Linked DNA regions of Homo sapiens: regions 1, 2 and 3 are each linked to region 4. The links come from fine-mapping of genetic effects on gene expression. A gene starts in region 4. Each other region holds a variant in brackets. All regions are shown on one strand. Distances are from middle to middle.

Region 1 (5,038 bases), 120 kb after region 4:
GTGAAAAAAGTTTAAAGCCACCTACAGGGAAATTCTATAAAAAGCCAACAGCCGATGAATTTGAGGATTACAGAGGCCACCAGTTAATCTGTTCTTTTACTGATTAAAAAAATAATAATAAGAGGCATTTTTTAAAGCCTATGACTTTGATTTGCAGATGAAGTACAACTTGCCTTCCTGGTGTGACCGAGTCCTCTGGAAGTCTTATCCCCTGGTGCACGTGGTGTGTCAGTCTTATGGTGAGTTCAAACACTGGGGAAAGCAGAACAGGATCAGAGAATGGCACCAAGCTGGGAGGTGTGACTGCCCTAAAATCTAAGGGCTTCAGTCTGTTGATGTGTCAAAGGGAGGAATTCACTGTAACCCTAATCAGGCGACCTGGAAATGTTGATGCTTCCCTGCCTGTCTTGTGCTGCCACCTAATCCATATCCCCTGCTTTAGGAGACATTTGAATTATAGAGCACTTTTTTTCTTTTTCTTTTTGAGACGGAGTCTCACTCTGTCACCCAGGCTGGAGTACAATGGCATGATCTCATCTCACCACAACTTCTACCTCCTGGGTTCAAGCGATTCTCGTGCCACAGCCTCCCCAAGCAGCTGGGATTACAGGCTCCTGCCACCATGCCTGGCTAATTTTTGTATTTTTAGTAGAGACGGGGTTTCACCATGTTGGCCAGGCTGGTTGCAAACTCCTGACCTCAGGTGGTCAGCCCACCTCGGCCTCCCAAAGTGCTGAGATTACAGGCATGAGCCACCGCGGCCGACCCGGAGCACTTTTTTAAAAATTCAGTTTTATTTCTTTTGAAAAGAACATATTAAGTGTGAACCATATGAAAGTGTTTTTGTAGGTCAGAAATAGTTATTGGAAATTCATATGGCTCAAACTAATACATGTCGCAAGTGTGTACACATATATACACATATATATTTGGGGAGGTTTAACCATAAATTGAGTTAAATTGATTTTTAGAAGGCATAACATGTAATATTAAAATAAATAATTATGGAATAAGTTATCAAAACAATTAAGAAATAACTGTTAGCCAGGCACTGTGCCACGTACCTATAGTCTCAGCTGCTCAATAGGCTGAGGGGGGAGGATCGCTTGAGCCCAGTAGTTCAAAACCAGCCTGGGCAACGTAGACTCCATCTCTGAAAAAAATGAAAGAAAGAAATGACTGTTAACTCTTGACCCTCAAAGTTGAAGGTGCACTGAAGGAGTTCTTAATTGCCTGAATGCTTATTCTGAAAAGCTACTGATTAGTTCCCATTACTTACGAAGTGAGACCTTAAAAATCCACAGAACAGAGTTGCTTTGAACACTTCACTGACTGAGAATTGTGGTATTTTATTATTTATTTATTTATTTATTTATTTATTTATTTATTTATTGAGACGGAGTCTCTCTCAGTCGCCCAGGCTGGAGTACAGTGGCAAAATCTCGGCTCCCTGCAACCTCCGCCTGCCAGGTTCAAGTGACTCTCCTGCCTCAGACTCCCGAGTAGCTGGGATATCAGGCACGCAGCACCACGCCTGGCTAATTTTTTGTATTTTTAGTAGAGATGGGGTTACACCATGTTGGTCAGGCTGGTCTCGAACTCCTGACTTCAGGTGATCCACCCGCCTCAGCCTCCCCAGGTGCTGGGATTACAGGCCTGAGTCACTGCGCCAGGCCCAGTGGTATTATTTTTAAAACACTGCGAATTCCCACACAATGGCCTCTAAAGGATGGCCACCCCAGTCCTTGGAGCAAGGAGAGGGGTGGGGGAATGCTGCCCGCTGGCCACCTTTGTGGCTCCCACTCTGTCTCTGGGGACTGGCAAATTTGGTCTCACTTATTTAACTCTGGTCCTATACTTTGAACTGACTTCCATTCCAGTGCCTGTCTCCTCCTACTGCCCAGAAGAGCCCAGAGCAGCTACCCTGAAATAGTTTAACACACGCACCCTGCATTCCTTGCTGAAGGACTGAGCTCTGTCTCCCAGAAGTGACGTCACTAGACGAACTTCACACAACACCTTTAGATGTGTGGGAAGGCAACCTGCCCTCATAGCCACGGCCAGGGCATTGTTCCAGCTTCCAAAGCTCAAAGTGCCTGAGTCCTACCCTCTGCCTGCAGCCTCCTCACTTGTGCATTCCCTCCCTGCCACCCGTCGGACTCTCCAGGCCTGTCACTCCTTCCCAGCCACACTCAGGGTCAACCCTGTCAATACTGTCCTTCCCACATCCTGCAGCTCCGTGCATCCTGCCAATTCTTGTCTCAACCATCTGTCTGCTTCAGCCAGCCTCTGCCGAGAGTCAGGAGATAGTGGAGGCTTGTAGAATTACCACTTACTGTTTTGCACCTAAACTTGGCATTCAAAACTGCTCGACAGTGGAGGCTTTAGAGAAAGAGGAGGGAGATCAGTCCGGAAGTGGCAATGAGGAGCAGGAAGGACACCCTTTGCCCCCACCTCCGGGCCCGGAATATGAGGGTTGGGGAGGAAAACAAGCCTCACCAGAGAGGCAGCAGTGTCTTCCGGGGAGGGCTGGGTTTGGGAGGTGACAGGAAGATTAAAGATACAGGGAATTTTGCTAATGATATTTCATTGAGTGCCAGAGGGCTCAGTAGAAGCGTTTAATGAGTTGGGGTTGAGGGGAGGCAAAATGTTGGAAAAGAAAAGGGAGTGAATGTCCAGAGCTCAGGAAACAGGGGTGACCTGGGAGCCTCAGTCTTCTCATGACAATTAACATAGCAGGCATATCAGCTGTCTATTGCTGCATAACAAACTGTCCTAAAACTCAGTGACTTAAAGCAAACATTTATTTGCTCGCGAGTCTCTGCGCTAGGCTGAATTTGGACTGCTCACCTCTGCTCTAGTTGGTGTCATCTGGGCACACTCAGGCAGGAGCCCATCAGATCTGGGGTCGGCTGGCTGTCAGCAGGCATAGGGGTGGTACTCATCATCCAGCAGGCCAGTGCTGGCTTCTTAGCTTCCTGGTCTCAGGGTTCCCAGATTCGAGTGTCACCAGTGGGGAAGTTCTTCTTAAGGCTCTGTTGGCCTCATGTTTACTAAGGTCCCATTGGCCAAAGAAA[G/A]TCACATGACCAAGCCCAGACTCATGGTGGGAGGGGACCACAGAGAGTGTGGTTACTGGGAGGAGGACTGGGTCTTTGAGGGTCACCCATCTTACAGTCCACCTCCTAGGCTTAAGGGCACACTGTAGTGCCATTGCTATTATGTTCAGTACATATCTGAAATATTCTGAGAATGCTTAAAAAAAAAAACCCTGCTCGTCAACCCATTAAATTCTCCCTGGAACACCCCTCCTCCACTGCCACAGCAAACCTGTACCCCTGTGCTCAGCCTGACTCCCCACCTCCATCCTCTCCTGCCTCACACAGCACTGGACCTCACTGATTTCTTCTTGCCTGTGTCCAGTTTTTTGTTTTTTTTGTTTTGTTTTGTTTTTTGAGACAATCTTGCTTTGTTATCCAGGCTGGAGTGCAGTGGCACCATCCTGGCTCACTGCAACGTCAGCCTCCCAGGTTCAAGTGATTCTCCGCCTCAGCCTCCCAAGCAGCTGGGATTACAGGCGCCCACCACCACGCCCAGCTAATTTTTGTATTTTTAGTAGAGACGGGGTTTTGCCATGTTGGCCAGGCTGATCTCGAACTCCTGGCCTCAAGTGATCCACCCACCTCGGCCTCCCAAAGTGCTGGGATTACATGCGCCCACCACCATGCCCAGCTAATTTTTGTATTTTTAGTAGAGACGGGGTTTTGCCATGTTGGCCAGGCTGATCTCGAACTCCTGGCCTCAAGTGATCCACCCACCTCGGCCTCCCAAAGTGCTGGGATTACAGGCATGAGCCACCGTGCTTGGCCTCAGGTCCAGTTTTTAGGCTGATGCCCTCGCATCTTCCTCCCTCCTGTCTCAGAGAAGGGGTAGCCTCCTCTTTCTTTCCTGCCTAGCCTTTGCCCCTGGACCCTTGACTCCATCTATTCCTTCTCCACTACCAACCAGTGCCCCCACTCCCATCCTTCTCTCCTGTCCCTTTCTCTGTTCTGTCTCATAGTTTCCATGTGTTTCTCTGGTGATCCTTAGTAAGTGAGCTTTTTTTCTTTTCATGTTTATTAGCCATCTGTATTTTTTGGTGAATTTTCTGTCCATATCCTTTGGTTGGTTGAAGGGTGGAGTGTTTATCTTTTTCTTGCTGATTTGTAAATGCTTTCTAAAAAGGATGCCAAGTCTGTTTTATCACCTTCTTGGTCTCCTTTGCTGGCGGTTTTTCCTTTGCCCGCCCATTCATGGTTGGTGTGCCCTGGAATTCCATCCTCGTCTCTTCTCATCCTTCGTGTGAAAGCCCAGACATGCTCAGGTCTTCTGCTTCCACCTAATCCTAAGACTCCACATCTAAAGATGCATCTCCAGCCTTGAGTGCCCATTTCCTGCCAGGCATCTCCAACGGGCTATCTTGAAAGAACTGTCTTTCTAGAACTGTCCTCTTTCTCTTGCCCCTTCCCAAAGTGCTCTGCTGCCTCCATTCTCACCCGAGCACCAAGCTCCTTAACAGAGTTTTCTACACTTAGCGTCCTCCACTCTCTCCCGGTTCTATGAGGCATCGTGGGATGGAAAAGGTGTCCCGTCTCTCCCACCGATGAGCTGAGTGGCCTTAAGTCCCCTTCCCACCCAGTGTTTGGGGCTCTTCATCAATAAAATAAAGTGAGCCAGGCGTGGTGGCTCACGTCTGTAATCCCAGCACTTGGGAGGCCGAGGCGAGTGGATCACCTGAGGTCAGGAGTTCAAGACCAGCCTGGCCAACATGGCAAAACCTCATCTCTACAAAATGCACAAAGATTAGCTGGGCATGGTGACACGCACCTGTACTCCCAGCTACTCGGGTGGCTGAGGCATGAGAATTGCTTGAGCCTGGGAGGTGGAGGCTGCAGTGAGCCGAGATCGCGCCACTGCATTCCAGCCTGGGCAACAGAACAAGATTCTGTCTCAAAAATAAGTAAATAAATAAGTACAATGATTAGACCAGAAAAATCTCCAT
Region 2 (5,038 bases), 100 kb after region 4:
TAAGCCCCAGCCCACCCGCACAACCTCCTTCCTGAGGAATTCCACCCTTTTCCTGAGATGATGGGTAAGAAAAACGAGCTTTGGGACTATCGTACCCCAAGAGCAGCTGGCGTGGGTTACTCTGTATGTCTAAATTGGAAAGTTTTAGGGAAAGAGTCTGAATATCTAGGTGAAGGGGCTCATGGGAACCCTGCCAGCCCTAGGCAGCTCACCAAGGGGCCCCAGGCCTGAGAGAAAGAAGTCCACCCTGAGTAGGGTTGCCAGATTTATCAGGAGAGAGACAGAGAGAGACAGAGAGATAGGTACGTAGACAAAGGATGCCCAGTTAAATTTTAACTTCATAGAAACAATTTTTTTTAGTATATGTTTAGCTACAAACAAATAAATACTAAATATATATGCTCATAGACATTATGCTGAATATATAGTATATATACATATGCTAAATAAGTGTAATTATTATATTAAATATGAATTATACTAAGTAATATTAGTTTAAGCATACAGCTAATAATATACTAAATATATGCTAAATATATTTTGTATTAAACATATATATTGTGTATTTACTAAACACATGCACTCTACTAAATATAAATAATACTAAATAATTTTTTAGTGTAAGTGTTCAGGTAGAAATAAATTAGATAGAAGACATCCAGATAAACTTATTCTAAAAACTACCAGTTTATCTGAAATTGGAATTTCACTGGGTGTCGTGTGTCCCCTACCCTTGTCCTGAGAGGAGTCTGGGAGGAAGAGGGTGAGCAGTGGCTGGCAGGGGCCTCCTGGAAGTGAAGTGACAGCTTGTCACTCGTGTCCCAGGGCCACAGCAGCCGTGGAGTAGAGCCCGGGCCAGTGCCCCAGGGGGTCACTTGTCCCCTTCGGTCCCTTTCAGTGTTTCTAATAAGAGACAATAGTCTGCCTGATCTCCTCCCTCTGGACATGGTCAGGGATGTCCATGACACAAGGGCAGGGGTGCCCTTCCCACAGAAGAGTATGGAAGGAGCCAGCTGAGGCCATGCCGCAGGAGGGCCGGGGACCCACCAGCCCGGGGGTTCGGGCACCCACTTTGAGCCTCTTGGGGGAGCAGAATTTAGCCACAGTCCATTTACTCCAATGCTTGGCTTCTTTGCACTTGTAAGGCAAGAAGCTCATCTCTTTGAGGAACAAAGTTTGCTCATCCTTCAAGGGCATTGTAGGGAGAACCGTTCAAAATTTCTTGATTGAGCTTCTTCAACTCAGTTTTGAAATGGGAATGCGGAGGAGTTTCCACACTCTCCCGTTTCTCTGGCTCACACCCAGGCATCCCTCCGCTCTGGGCTGGGATCTGTCTTGCAAGGGAGACTTTGTTGTCTCCCAACAATGGGTTAGAACCCGCCATCTAAAACTTGTCAGTTCCCTTGGCTGTCTTGAGAATAGGATGTGAGTTCCTTGAGGGACAGGACTGTGTCTCAATTATCGTAGCCTCAAAGTGCAGGACAGTGTCTGACATCAGGGAATCTTCTGGTGTTTCTATACCTTGAAACTTGACATTACGTTTAAAAAGAGGCTTAACTGAGCTCTAGCCCTAACCGACATCCTGGGTGAGGTTGGCGCCCAGGCCTCCATTGCAGGCATTTCTTTGGGCTGCCTGGATGGTCTTGTGTAATGACGTGACCTCCCTCACACTCCCGCCCTCTGTTTTGAATTCTCCTAATGCTTTGACTCGATGTGCCTTTGACTCACTTGGTGTTGGGTTTTGCTGTTGAAGGTAACGCCCCCCCTCCCAAGAAGATCACGTCCTGGTTTCTCTCCAAGGGGCAGGGAAAGACGCGGGACGACTCTGCGGACTACATCCCCCATGACATTTACGTGATCGGCACCCAAGAGGACCCCCTGAGTGAGAAGGAGTGGCTGGAGATCCTCAAACACTCCCTGCAAGAAATCACCAGTGTGACTTTTAAAACAGTGAGCAGCTGGCTGCACGCTGGGTGGGCTTCCGGGATAGAATCTTTGCTCGGCTGGGCTGTCTCAGAGGCAAGGGTGGGCTCAGCCTATCAGCTCTCAGTTTTCAAGGATGTCTGGAGGCCCCCACTGAGAGATGCGTCTGTATTCAGAAATAAATGGGATCTGTGGGGTATTGCTGAAAACCACTGAGTCCTCTATCTTCCCACCCTTGGTCAGCCCCGGTTCTCATCTTTAGGATGTTTTGTCTCGCCTATCAAGCATCGCTGGGAGTCCCCCGAAGGGTTGGGATTACAGACAGGATACCCCATACCCAGGGGCTGCGGCTGGGGCTGGGTGTGAATCACTGTGCCCTGGTTCACACCCTACACTTGGGCCGAGTATTGCAACGTTGTCCTCCCACCAGGTCGCCATCCACACGCTCTGGAACATCCGCATCGTGGTGCTGGCCAAGCCTGAGCACGAGAACCGGATCAGCCACATCTGTACTGACAACGTGAAGACAGGCATTGCAAACACACTGGGTGAGCAGGGCGGGGACCCTGTGTTCCTCCCACACCCTCTGCCTCAACTCTCGCGACCACATCATCCTGATCCCACCAGTAGTTCCCCGGGTTAAAAACAGAGAGCCTCACATCCTCAGATCCTGGCTCAGTCCTCAGCAAATAGGGGTGATTGGTCTCCCTGGCTGAAACT[C/T]ACTCAGGGTCTACACCAGCAGTCCCAGGGATCTAGCTAAAATGCAGGTTCCGACCCAGTAGATCTTGGGTGGAGCTCAGGGTTCCAAGTTTCTGACAGGTTCCCAGGCGACTTGAGCGCTGCTGGTCGGCCCGTGGGACCCATTTTAAGAAGCAAGAACCTAGAAGAGGCATTGGCCAACTTTTGCAGGAAAGGGAAGGGCCTGACAGTAAATATTTCAGGCTTTGCAGGCCACTCAACACTATTCCTCTCTGCCTTTCTGGTGGGAAAGCAGCCATAGGCAACCCAGAAAGCGAATGGGAGTGACTGTGTTACCAGTGAGACCTTCCTTACAAGCACAGGCGGGAGGTGGCTGGCCCCTGCCCTCGGTCCCTGTGCACCAGGTTGGATCTGGAAACGCTGGTGTCAGTGGAGAGTTGCTGGCTTCAGAGAGCAGTAACAAGGGCAAGAAGTCTTCATAAGTGTAGGAGTGCAAGCCTGTGTGTTTGTGTAGGATGTGTGTGTGAGTAGGTCTGTGTATGTGAGTTTGTGTGAGTGACAGCGTGCATGTGAGTGTGTGAGCCTGTGTAGGTGTGTGAGAGTTTATGGATGTGTGTTTGTGAGCATGTTTATGTGAGTCAATGTGTGAGCGTACCACCCCATATCTATGAGTGTGTGTCTATATGTGTGTGAATCTATGCATGTGTTTGAGTGTGTCTATGTGAGTCTATGTATGTGAGTCCGTGTATGAGTGTACCACCCATATCTATGTGTGTGAGTGTCTGTATGTGTGAGTCCATGCATGTGTGTTTGTGTGTGTTTATGTGAGTCTACATATGTGAGTCCGTGTGTGAGTGTACCACCCCGTATCTATGAGTGTGTGTGTGTCCATGCATGTGTTTGTGAGTGTATTTATGTGAGTCTATGTATGTGAGTCCGTGTGTGTGTACCACTCCATATCTATGAGTGTGTGAGTGTCTATGTGTGTGTGTCCATGCATGTGTGTTTGTGAGTGTGTGTTTATGTGCATCTGTGTGTGAGTGTACCACCCCGTATCTATGAGTGTGTGAGAGTCCATGCATGTGTTTGTGAGTGTGTTTATGTGAGTCTATGTATGTGAGTCCATGTATGAGTGTACCACCCCATATCTATGAGTGTGTGAGTATCTGTGAGTCCATGTGTCTGTGTTTGTGAGTGTGTGTTTATGAGAGTCTAGGTATGTGAGGGTGGGTGTCCGAGTGCATGTGCATAAGTGCTAGAGCCTCTCTGTGTGTTTGTGTGTGTGTGTGTGTGTGCCCGTGTGTGCACGTGGGGTGGTATACACACAGGGCTCCAGGGCTGGCATCAGGGGCGAGGCCAGTGGTTTTTGGTGGTTGGAGTCAGTGGAGTCAGGAACAGGACAGAGTCCCAGAGATAACAGGAAATAGAAGAATTGCTGCAATCGAACGTGCAAAGCTCTCTCAACTTTTCTGCTGACAAACCGCAAACTGCCCGCGTCCACCCCCACTCGTCCCCCTTCCTTCCTGCCACAGTAGAAGGGTGGGGCTGGCGTGGCTATCCTGGCTGCGCCCACGCCCTCCTGCTGCCCAGCAACCGCCCCGGGTGTGGATTCCATCGCTCCCTGGGCTTCCAGTCCCTCCCACCAGCCCCTGCCCCGCTGTGCAGAATATGCTCGGACCTCCTAGGGCCACATAAAACCACCCCCTCAGCCAGACCAGTTCCTGGTCATCCTGGCCTCAGGGCTGGGCACTGGGTCAGCTTCTGAGCAGGCAGGAGCTCTGCTCATGTGGACCTGACACACATTGCATGAGCAGACGGGAGGAAAAGAAGCCAGTTCCTGGGAGGGAGTGCACTGGCGAAGGAGTGTGTGGCGTGGGCAGAGAGCAGAGGTCAGGGGCCTCCCTGAGAAGGGCAGTGCGACTGGCATCTGAGGGGTGAGGAGAAAGGCCTGGCCAGAGTCCCAGCTTTATGACCATTGCAGGGCAGCTTCTGGGCTGTGCAGCTCACACACACCTTCCCCTCCTTCCCCTCCTTCCCCTCCTCTCTGCCCTGGGGCCAGCCTCCCTCCTCCACTCCCCTGAAATGGCTCCCAGCCATAATTAGCACAGGACAGAAACAGCAAATGCTGGTCGGTGTGGTAGGCTCACGCCTGTAATCCCAGCACTTTGGAAGGCCGAGGCCGGTGGATCACTTGAAGTCAGGAGTTCGAGACCAGCCTGGCCAACATGGTGAAATCCCATCCCACTAAAAATACAAAAATTAGTTGGATGTGGTGGTGCGCACCTGTAATCCCAGCTGCTTGGGAGGCTGAGGCAGGAGAATCGCTTGAACCCGAGAGGTGGAGGTTGCAGTGAGCTGAGATCATGCCACTGCACTCCAGCCTGGGTGACAGAGCGAGACTCTATCTCAAAAAAAA
Region 3 (5,038 bases), 150 kb after region 4:
CCCCAAAGAAAGACCCAGAGCCATTAAGCAGCCATGCTCCCATGTCTTCTCCCCTGGACATGTGTCTTCCCTGCTCTGTCCCTGGCTCTAGGCCCAGTGACCTGGGGAAGAACGCAGGGGACACGCTGCCTCAGGAGGACCTGCCGCTGACGAAGCCCGAGATGTTTGAGAACCCCCTGTATGGGTCCCTGAGTTCCTTCCCTAAGCCTGCTCCCAGGAAGGACCAGGAATCCCCCAAAATGCCGCGGAAGGAACCCCCGCCCTGCCCGGAACCCGGCATCTTGTCGCCCAGCATCGTGCTCACCAAAGCCCAGGAGGCTGATCGCGGCGAGGGGCCCGGCAAGCAGGTGCCCGCGCCCCGGCTGCGCTCCTTCACGTGCTCATCCTCTGCCGAGGGCAGGGCGGCCGGCGGGGACAAGAGCCAAGGGAAGCCCAAGACCCCGGTCAGCTCCCAGGCCCCGGTGCCGGCCAAGAGGCCCATCAAGCCTTCCAGATCGGAAATCAACCAGCAGACCCCGCCCACCCCGACGCCGCGGCCGCCGCTGCCAGTCAAGAGCCCGGCGGTGCTGCACCTCCAGCACTCCAAGGGCCGCGACTACCGCGACAACACCGAGCTCCCGCATCACGGCAAGCACCGGCCGGAGGAGGGGCCACCAGGGCCTCTAGGCAGGACTGCCATGCAGGTGCGCTGCGCCACACGTGGGTTCGTGTGCATTTGTGTGTGTGTGCATGCGTGAGTGCGTATGTGTGTACCTATGCATATGTGTGTGCATGTGTGTGTGCACGCATGCATATGTGCGTGCATGTGTGAACGCATGCATGTGCACACATGCGAGTGATGGTCCTGGGAACTGCTCCATGAGAAGGGAGAGTCAGGATTTGAACCCAGGTCTGCCTGTCCCACACATCCCTGACCCTGCATTGCCTCTGCAGCAGTTGTTAAAAGGAAGAAAGGCGGGGCTGTGGATAAACTTAGTCTAGTGTCAGTCCCAGAGGAAGAAGATTCCATAAAGAAAAGGAGCCTAAATCATTTATATCTCATTGTTATTATAAATTTGTTTTGCAACTGAGTTTCGCCAGGCACAGTGGATCACGAGGTCAGGAGATCGAGACCATCCTGGCCAACATGGTGAAACCCCGTCTCTACTAAAATACAAAAAATTACCCGGGCATGGTGGCGCACGCCTGTAGTCCCAGCTGCTTGGGAGGCTGAGGCAGGGGAATCGCTTGAACCTGGGAGGCAGAGGTTGTGGTGAGCCGAGATTGCGCCACTGCACTCCAGCCTGGTGACAAAGCAAGACTCCGTCTCAAAAAAAAAAAAAAAAAAAAATTAAAAAACAACAACAACGGAGTTTCACTCTTTGTTGCCCAGGCTAGAGTCCAGTGGTGTGATCTCGGCTCACTGCAACCTGCGCCTCCTGGGTTCAAGCGATTCTCCTGTCTCAGCCTCCCGAGTGGCTGGGATTACAGGCACCTGCCACCATGCCTGGCTAATTTTTGTATTTTTAGTAGAGATGGGATTTCACCATGTTGGCCAGGCTGGTCTCGAACTCCTGACCTCAGGTGATCTGCCTGCCTGGGCCTCCCAAAGTTCTGGGATTACAGGCATGAGCCACTGCACCCAGCCTCATTGTTATTATTAAGTCGCATTCATACTTGAAAATTTCCCAATATTTTGGAGAATTCAGCACACTTTCCCTCTCCTTCATGTAAAATAAAAAATTTTTTGAGCAAAACTAACAGTGATTAAGAACAGACTCCAGGCCGGGCGTGGTGGCTCATGACTGTAATCCCAGCATTTTGGGAGGCCGAGGTGGATGGATCACCTGAGGTCAGGAGTTCAAGACCAGCCTAACCAATATGGTGAAACCCTGTCTCTATTAAAAATACAAAAATTAGCTGGGCATTGTGGTGTGCACCTGTAATCCCAACTACTCGGGAGGCTGAGACAGGAGAATTGCTTGAACCCAGGAGGCGGAGGTTGCAGTGAACCGAGATCGCAACACTGCACTCCAGCCTGGGCGACAGAGTGAGACTCCATCTCAAAAAAGAGAACAGTCAGGCTATGTTGGATTTGAATCCCAGCCCTCCCACCTCCTGGCTCTGTGCCTTGAGCCTCAGTTTACCCATCTGTAAAAAGGGGCTGTTAATAGTACCTACCTCATAGACTTAGAAGGAGAATTGCATTGTAGGCTATTATGTATTATTACCATGTATTATCATCTATATAGAAATTATATATTTATATTTATGTATTTACATTGATATCCATTACATATCATTTCATATATATATACTATACATATTACATATGTGTATATATTTTATATATATATATGGTACGTACCTGGGTGTGGTGCCATGCACCTGTAGTCCCAGCTACTGGGGAGGCTGAGGCATGAGGCTAGCTGGAACCCAAGAATTCAAGGCTGCAGTGAGCTATGATTGCACCACTGCACTCCAGACTAGGCAACAGAGTAAGACCCCATTTCTAAAAAACAATTTTTTTAAATAAGCAGGTAAAGTACTTAGAGCAGTGAGTGCTGGCTCTTCTCAGCTACACGTTAAAGGAAGCCTGGCCTAGCCCACAGCATGCAGGGACCTGGGCCACTTAGTTCAACATGGCCTGGTGAGAATGAGCCCTGACAGCCCTTCTGTTCTTGTCCCACAGTGAAGCCCTCAGTGAGCTGCCACTGAGTCGGGAGCCCAGAGGAACGGCGTGAAGCCACTGGACCCTCTCCCGGGACCTCCTGCTGGCTCCTCCTGCCCAGCTTCCTATGCAAGGCTTTGTGTTTTCAGGAAAGGGCCTAGCTTCTGTGTGGCCCACAGAGTTCACTGCCTGTGAGACTTAGCACCAAGTGCTGAGGCTGGAAGAAAAACGCACACCAGACGGGCAACAAACAGTCTGGGTCCCCAGCTCGCTCTTGGTACTTGGGACCCCAGTGCCTCGTTGAGGGCGCCATTCTGAAGAAAGGAACTGCAGCGCCGATTTGAGGGTGGAGATATAGATAATAATAATATTAATAATAATAATGGCCACATGGATCGAACACTCATG[A/G]TGTGCCAAGTGCTGTGCTAAGTGCTTTACGAACATTCGTCATATCAGGATGACCTCGAGAGCTGAGGCTCTAGCCACCTAAAACCACGTGCCCAAACCCACCAGTTTAAAACGGTGTGTGTTCGGAGGGGTGAAAGCATTAAGAAGCCCAGTGCCCTCCTGGAGTGAGACAAGGGCTCGGCCTTAAGGAGCTGAAGAGTCTGGGTAGCTTGTTTAGGGTACAAGAAGCCTGTTCTGTCCAGCTTCAGTGACACAAGCTGCTTTAGCTAAAGTCCCGCGGGTTCCGGCATGGCTAGGCTGAGAGCAGGGATCTACCTGGCTTCTCAGTTCTTTGGTTGGAAGGAGCAGGAAATCAGCTCCTATTCTCCAGTGGAGAGATCTGGCCTCAGCTTGGGCTAGAGATGCCAAGGCCTGTGCCAGGTTCCCTGTGCCCTCCTCGAGGTGGGCAGCCATCACCAGCCACAGTTAAGCCAAGCCCCCCAACATGTATTCCATCGTGCTGGTAGAAGAGTCTTTGCTGTTGCTCCCGAAAGCCGTGCTCTCCAGCCTGGCTGCCAGGGAGGGTGGGCCTCTTGGTTCCAGGCTCTTGAAATAGTGCAGCCTTTTCTTCCTATCTCTGTGGCTTTCAGCTCTGCTTCCTTGGTTATTAGGAGAATAGATGGGTGATGTCTTTCCTTATGTTGCTTTTTCAACATAGCAGAATTAATGTAGGGAGCTAAATCCAGTGGTGTGTGTGAATGCAGAAGGGAATGCACCCCACATTCCCATGATGGAAGTCTGCGTAACCAATAAATTGTGCCTTTCTCACTCAGCTGTGTGTGTGGCGTTTTTCCTGACATTCGGAGCCATAGATATCCTTCTAGATGGCAGGGCCTGCACAGGGCACAACTGAGGCAGTTAAGGGTTCATGGTGGTGATGGATGGTGTTGCCCTGACCAGATGGGACACCATAGAGCCAGTTTGAAGCTGGTCCTGGACTAGGAACAGGAGTAAACCGCACCCCTTCCTTCCTTCCACCCACACATCTTCCTGGCACTCCAAGCACCCTGCGGCCACCCAGAGGCCACGAGCATCCCCTCCAAACCTGCTGTCCTGCAGCCCACAAGTTCCTCCCAGCTTTTATAAGTTTTCACCACTTAAGCTGCAGTGACAAAAAAAACACGTCAACACTCCCCAGGTCATGGGTTCCCAGGTCAGGGAGTAGACCCCCGCCCAGAGGCACAGTGCGGGCCACTTCCACGGCGCCTCTGCCCCACCTTGGGCTGCCTGGCCTCTGCTTCTGCTCACAGACACCAGGCCTGGGCTCCAGGCAGGGCCTGGAGCCGTGTCTTTGGCAGCCTCCAAGCAAACCATTCACTCCCAAGCCTCAGTGGCACCTGGAGCCCAGCAGGGGCAGGACTGAGTGCCTGCTGGGACCATGGCTCCCTACCCCCACTCAGGTGTCCCCGCCCTGCAGGCTCACTGCCTGGTGTCCGTGTAGAACCTGACCTAAGTCCCAGGCCCCAGCCTCTGATTCAACAGACCAAGGGCCACGGTGGAGAGAGAGCTGGAGACACCCAGACATTCTTTAGTCTCCCAGCCCCCATCACCAGAGCTGAGGACCCAGGCATGGATGCCCATGGTCCCTGGGGAACCCACTGGCTGCTGGGGTGGGCTGGCCTGCTACACAAGTGCCATCATCTGCTCACCCACAGGGAGAATGTCAAGCCCAAGGCCCCATGCCCACTTAGGATGGATGTCTAGGCACTCCCCAGCATTTCTGTGGGTTCCCAGGAGATACGGGTAGGAGAGCAACTGTTTGGGGCATACATCATGCTCCCCGTCACCTGCTCTGGGTTCCAGTCACTCAAGCAAATGCAGTGCCCCCACCACAGTCAAACCCAGGGCTGCTGTGAGGACCTGGCTTTGATTGCACGTGGTCGGACAGCTGAGGCCCACCTGGTGCTCAGAACAGGAAACGCTGTGGAATGCAAGAATTTT
Region 4 (5,038 bases):
CCTGCTCAGCCTCCAAAGTAGCTGTAGCTGCGATTATAGGCACGTACCACACCCACCTGATTTTTTTTTTTTTTTTTTTTAGTAGAGACAGGGTTTCACCATGTTGGCCAGGCTGGTCTCAAACTCCTGACCTCAGGTGATCCACTCCCCTCAGCCTCCCAAAGTGCTGGGATTACAGGTGTTAGCCACTGTGCCTGGCCACTCTCTAGCCATTATTTGAAGTCTTCATTGATAAATCACTATCCCTCACATGAGTTTGTGAATTTTGTAATACGTTAAAATTATTTATATTGACTGGAGACCTACAAAAAAAAAAAATCCACCCACCAAAAGGGCAGCTCTGATCTAGATACTGGGATTTCCTGAATGTGGAGGGCAGAAGGGTGGGGGACAAGCCAGCTGACCATGCTGGATAGATCAGGCAATTGGGTGGAAAAGGAAGCAAAGTTGGGATGGGCCTTAAAAATGAGGGAAGAGTGCCCGTGTGGCGTGTGTGCCAGGGGATCTCACTCTGTGGAATGGCAAGGACCGTGGGAATAGAGGTGTGAGAGGTGGGGGGCTGGGGGTTTGGGGGAAGCTCTCTAAGTAGGGCAGTCTTGGCATGGTAGGGGTCTCTAGAGATGAGTGGGTGGAGGTGTAAAGGGACCAGTATTGCAAATGGATCCTCCTGGTGGCGTGGTCCAGGACTTCATGGATGTTGGTGGAGGCCAGCAGGGAAGTGAGAAGGGTGTGAAGGTACACAATGGGAGCATAGGAGATGACCCCATAAGGAGGGGGTGGACAGGTGCTGAGTGGAGGCGTGGGTGGGGAATGAGAGGCCTCCACACTGGGCTGCTGCAGAGGTGGCGTGCTGCGGAAGGGCCGGAGCATGGAGGCCAGTTCCCATCACCACTCTATCCCCACGCCTGGCTCCCAGCCTGGCCAGAGGTCCTTGACTGGGAGTGCTTTGTCTGCCCTACAGACTCGCCTGCCATGTGTGTTGCTCAGCGGGGAGGTGCTGGGGGCCCTGTTCTGGGACAACCATCAGTGTGACACATGTTGAGCCCCTGGGCACATGTGAGCTCTTTTACGAGCTACGTCCTTCAAGTTAGACAAGAAGAAACCAAGGCCGAGAGAGAGAAGAAACTTGACCAGGTTCCCACAGCTTGAATGTGGTGGCGCTGCCTGGCTGGTGCCCCTTCCTGGAGGGAGTCTGTTGTCATGTCCTGGAGGCCAAGGCCTGGATGTGGGATGGTGGGGGCACTCTTTGTGCAGCGGGTCAACACGTGCCCCTTCGGCCTTGGTGGGCCGGACCCAAGGACGGAAGGTGCCCAGGTCTGGGGGCTGAGGGATGGGTGTCCACCGCAGAGCCCTCAGAAATGACTGGTCCTGGATGGCGGTCCCTGGAGAGGCAGCTCCTCTTTGAGTGGTGGGCATATGTGGCCATGCCCAGTCTTGGAGGCGGTGCAGTCCGACCGGCCACCCCGACTGCTGAGACGCAGGACTCAGCACCCAGTGTTGTCCTTGGCCAGGCGGCCAGCCTGCCCTGTGGGGCTTTGGGGTTCTCCTCTCCGAGCTTGTTTCCCCAGCATCCTGGAGAAGCCCAGGGAAAAACCCAGCCTATGTTCCCGCTGTAAACGGCCCACATCCCCTCCAAGCTCCCTTTGTGTGTCTCCAAGCTGGACTGCAGGGATCAGAGCTGTGCTGCCCGTGCAGCACCCACCCGCCCCTGGGAATGAGGGTAATGGGGTCACAGAGCCATCACTTGGACCTTGGCGCCCTCGGCTGGTGGCAGCCAAGGTCTCCCAGCACCCAGGCCGCTGGGAGTCTCTAAAGGGGAGGGGTGGGGCTCGACTGTCCCCTCCCCCTCAAGTTTGCTCTGTCCTGGGCAGGCCGTAGTCCCAGTTGAGAAGCTGTGCCCCCTTGGGTGTTTTGGAGGTTCAGGGTGGGTGCTGAAAAGCCCTGAGGGAGAGCAGAAGGCTCGGGGGCCTGTCTAGGGCATGGCATCCCACGTGGGTGTCAGCACGGCCGCAGAAGAACCACTTCTCTGGCCCACCCATGCCTGCTAGGCCATGCTTCTTCAGAAGTGGCCACAACTCTCCTGACGTCTCCAGAGCCGGTCATTCCACCCAGGGGGACTTCAGCTGCCACTGGACACTTCAATTGTACGCTGCGACCAGTTGCCAGGAAGGAGAGGGCTGGCAAGAGAGCCGCGGCAGCCGTGGCAGGGTGTAGGGGACGGTGGACGGCCAGGGCCCCCCCCTCTCTCTCTTTCTCTCTCTCTCTCTTGCTTGGTTTCTGTAATGAGGAAGTTCTCCGCAGCTCAGTTTCCTTTCCCTCACTGAGCGCCTGAAACAGGAAGTCAGTCAGTTAAGCTGGTGGCAGCAGCCGAGGCCACCAAGAGGCAACGGGCGGCAGGTTGCAGTGGAGGGGCCTCCGCTCCCCTCGGTGGTGTGTGGGTCCTGGGGGTGCCTGCCGGCCCGGCCGAGGAGGCCCACGCCCACCATGGTCCCCTGCTGGAACCATGGCAACATCACCCGCTCCAAGGCGGAGGAGCTGCTTTCCAGGACAGGCAAGGACGGGAGCTTCCTCGTGCGTGCCAGCGAGTCCATCTCCCGGGCATACGCGCTCTGCGTGCTGTGAGTACAACCTGCTCCCTCCCCGGGCACAGATATGACAGAGGGGCTTAGAGGGGGCCCAGCTTTGAGATGGGTTGTTCTTATGTCACAGGACAGAGTGATCTGACATGCACACTTCCCCGCCACCCTGTCATGGACCTTGTCCTTGGAGTTCAGAGAGCTGGTCTCATGGCAGGTTTTGCAGCCTTGGAGCTGTCAGAACCACTCTGAGGCCTGATGTTACACCCCAGCTTCCCATGAGCTGTATGGACCTTGTGGCTTCCTTGGAGTCTGGGGACCGAGAGAAGGGAGTTTGGGCTTTTGGAGCCAGGAGGAAGCTCAGGGCTCTGTGGAGGTGGGTGTGTTAGAGATCAGCTCAAAGATGCCCAGCTCAGAAACCCTGAGAAGAGCAAAGGTGGCAAGGGGGACCCTTCCTGGAGCACCCAGGCTTCGGGCCCCTGGAGGAAGCTGTTGTTTGGCGAGCCAAGAATATGGGGTGAGTTTAATCAAGAAAGGACTTTCCATTCAGTCAGAAGCTGCTTTCAGGGGCCTGAGAGCAGAGGAAGTCACCATTACCACCAGCGAGCAGCCTCTTCTCTCTCCTGAGCACTTGGCTGTGACCGCTGCCCACCCCCCACCCCCTCAATTTGGGTCTCTGTCACCATCAACTCCTCCCACTGCCCGGTTGGGGATGTTACTGAATGTACCAGCTGTGCTAACAATGGAGGAACCAGCCACTTGCTGAAGGTTCCTTTCTAAAACCCCCTTCCTGTCCAGCGTCTGAAGGAGGCCCTTGCCCTGCAGCTCTCGGTCTAATCATAGGGGGGCCTTGCCCTGCAGCTCTTGGTCTAATCATTTTGCCGGGGCCTCAGGCAGTGCCGGAGTGTAGTCAGGGAAATGTGTGTCCACCTGAACATCTCAAGTAGCATCCCTGGGCTGGCAGAAATGTTCCCCCGAGCAGCCAGGGCCTTGTGCTTCTCCAGGCAGGAGGGGAATTGGGTGATGAACCCAGACCTGTTTTGAATACTGACTCACAGCTGGGACCTGTCGTGCTAAGCATTTGTTAGCCCATTTCATCCTCACCACAACCTAAAGTGAAGGTCCTGTTAAAAGCCCCACTTTGCAGATGAGAAATCTGAGGCCCTGGCAGGTTAAGTGAGTGACAACAGTCAAAGCCACGGCCATCTGCCCCCAGAGGCTGCAGCTGAGACCAGCAGCCTGTGGCCCAACCTCTCCTGCTCCCAGTCCAGCGGGGCAGGCATGTAGCCTTGCAGGGCTGGAGAAAGAAGCAAGGGGAGCCACAGTGTTTACAGGGTCAGCTGGGGCACTGGAAACCAAGCCAGGCTCGCAGCTGGTCGCTGGCCTGTGCTGACAGTCTGCAGCCCCACCTCCAAAGACTGGTTTCCTGTGTCCCCTCTCTCATGCCTCAGGGGAAGGAACGCAGGCCCAGGCTGCCTGGACTTCCCCAGTGGGGACCTGCTGCTGCCGGGGCCTTAGAAGGAGCAGGAAGATTCTCTTAGGCCTCTCACAAGCCCAGTCTGACTCCACCTGGCCCATGTGGGTTACTTGGATTTCTCTCCTGGCCCAGTGGGATCTTGTCCTGGCTGTTTGGTGTTGGCTGAGCCGAGGGCTTCCAGGGCCCCATCTCATTAACCTTCAACACAGCCCTTTGACCAGGGCTTGCTTTGTGGTTGCTCAGGTTACAGACATGGGGCGTGGGTCTCTCTGACTCCGAGCCGTGAGCATCTTAACGTCTAGGATTAGCCTGAGCCAGAGTCAGAGCTGGAGAGGCCTTGGAGAAGCTCTGGTGCAACAGCCCTGGCTTTTCAGGAGGTAGACAGAGGGCAGAGAGCCTGAGGCCTTTGTCCACCATGCTGGCTGGGGTCAAAACTGCTGGGATCCAGGCCAGTTCTCGTATTCCTTCCTCTACCTCTTCTCTCTGAACCCTTGTCTGCACTGAGTTCTCTCAGAGTCATGATGGGTGTGCAGTGTCTGCTCCTTAGAGAGGGACCTGTGGTGCCTACAGATGTCCACTATCCTCTCAGCCGAAGCCTCGTCAGCCTCCTATCCTGAGGCTGCTGGGCTGCAAACACCAGGAGTCCCACCCCTTGGCCAGACAAACCCTGGGCTCAGTGTTTCCCTTTCTCCTCTGCTCAGGGTGGGAAGCTTCCCTTCCTGCAGGGTCAGGCTCCACTGTAGGCCGTGGGTTGCTATGGACCTGCAGACTTTCCATACATCTGCAGGCTTCATATGGCTGCCACCCTGGATTTTGCCAATTACGGAGATTTTAAAACTAAAAACTAATTAAATGAATGATAACAAACTGTCATCTTCCAACACCTCATTTCTTGAAAGAAAGCAGCCTTTGACACCAAAAGAGGCAGGAAGGGCATTAAAAAAAAAAAAGCCAGTCATTTAAAGCAAAGAGATTGAACTTCTTG

Which allele goes with the higher level. Alleles are on the strand shown, and positions count from the first base shown. SD is a standard deviation of normalised expression in the study named. Not every link is listed here.
For the expression in subcutaneous fat of the gene that starts at base 2,348 in region 4, allele T in region 2 goes with a higher level than allele C (small effect, 0.16 SD a copy in GTEx).

What was found. PIP is the estimated chance that this variant, and not a neighbour inherited with it, causes the effect. A credible set is the group of variants that fine-mapping cannot tell apart.
Region 1: its variant is the best candidate, but not a certain one, in a credible set for the expression of INPP5D in whole blood (TOPMed, PIP 0.77).
Region 2: its variant is the best candidate, but not a certain one, in a credible set for the expression of INPP5D in subcutaneous fat (GTEx, PIP 0.54).
Region 3: its variant is the best candidate, but not a certain one, in a credible set for the expression of INPP5D in whole blood (TOPMed, PIP 0.58).

Annotation. Positions count from the first base shown.
Region 1 is chr2:233,177,108-233,182,145 of GRCh38, forward strand. It overlaps INPP5D (inositol polyphosphate-5-phosphatase D), which reads left to right. Exons shown (of 27, transcript NM_001017915.3): 18 at 158-239. Among named protein-coding and RNA genes, the nearest start is that of ATG16L1, 72 kb to the right of the region's middle. The variant G/A (reference allele first, on the strand shown) is at 3,078.
Region 2 is chr2:233,161,954-233,166,991 of GRCh38, forward strand. INPP5D (inositol polyphosphate-5-phosphatase D) reads left to right here. Exons shown (of 27, transcript NM_001017915.3): 12 at 1,754-1,950; 13 at 2,354-2,471. Among named protein-coding and RNA genes, the nearest start is that of ATG16L1, 87 kb to the right of the region's middle. RefSeq lists an enhancer at 1,706-2,319. The variant C/T (reference allele first, on the strand shown) is at 2,644.
Region 3 is chr2:233,204,035-233,209,072 of GRCh38, forward strand. It overlaps INPP5D (inositol polyphosphate-5-phosphatase D), which reads left to right. Exons shown (of 27, transcript NM_001017915.3): 26 at 92-683; 27 at 2,672-3,869. The coding sequence ends at 2,674. It also overlaps the pseudogene RN7SL32P. Among named protein-coding and RNA genes, the nearest start is that of ATG16L1, 45 kb to the right of the region's middle. The variant A/G (reference allele first, on the strand shown) is at 3,059.
Region 4 is chr2:233,057,995-233,063,032 of GRCh38, forward strand. It overlaps INPP5D (inositol polyphosphate-5-phosphatase D), which reads left to right and starts at 2,348. Exons shown (of 27, transcript NM_001017915.3): 1 at 2,348-2,618. The coding sequence starts at 2,485. RefSeq lists enhancers at 2,023-2,302, 2,903-2,992, 4,079-4,672, 4,673-5,038 and silencers at 2,503-2,582, 4,653-4,702.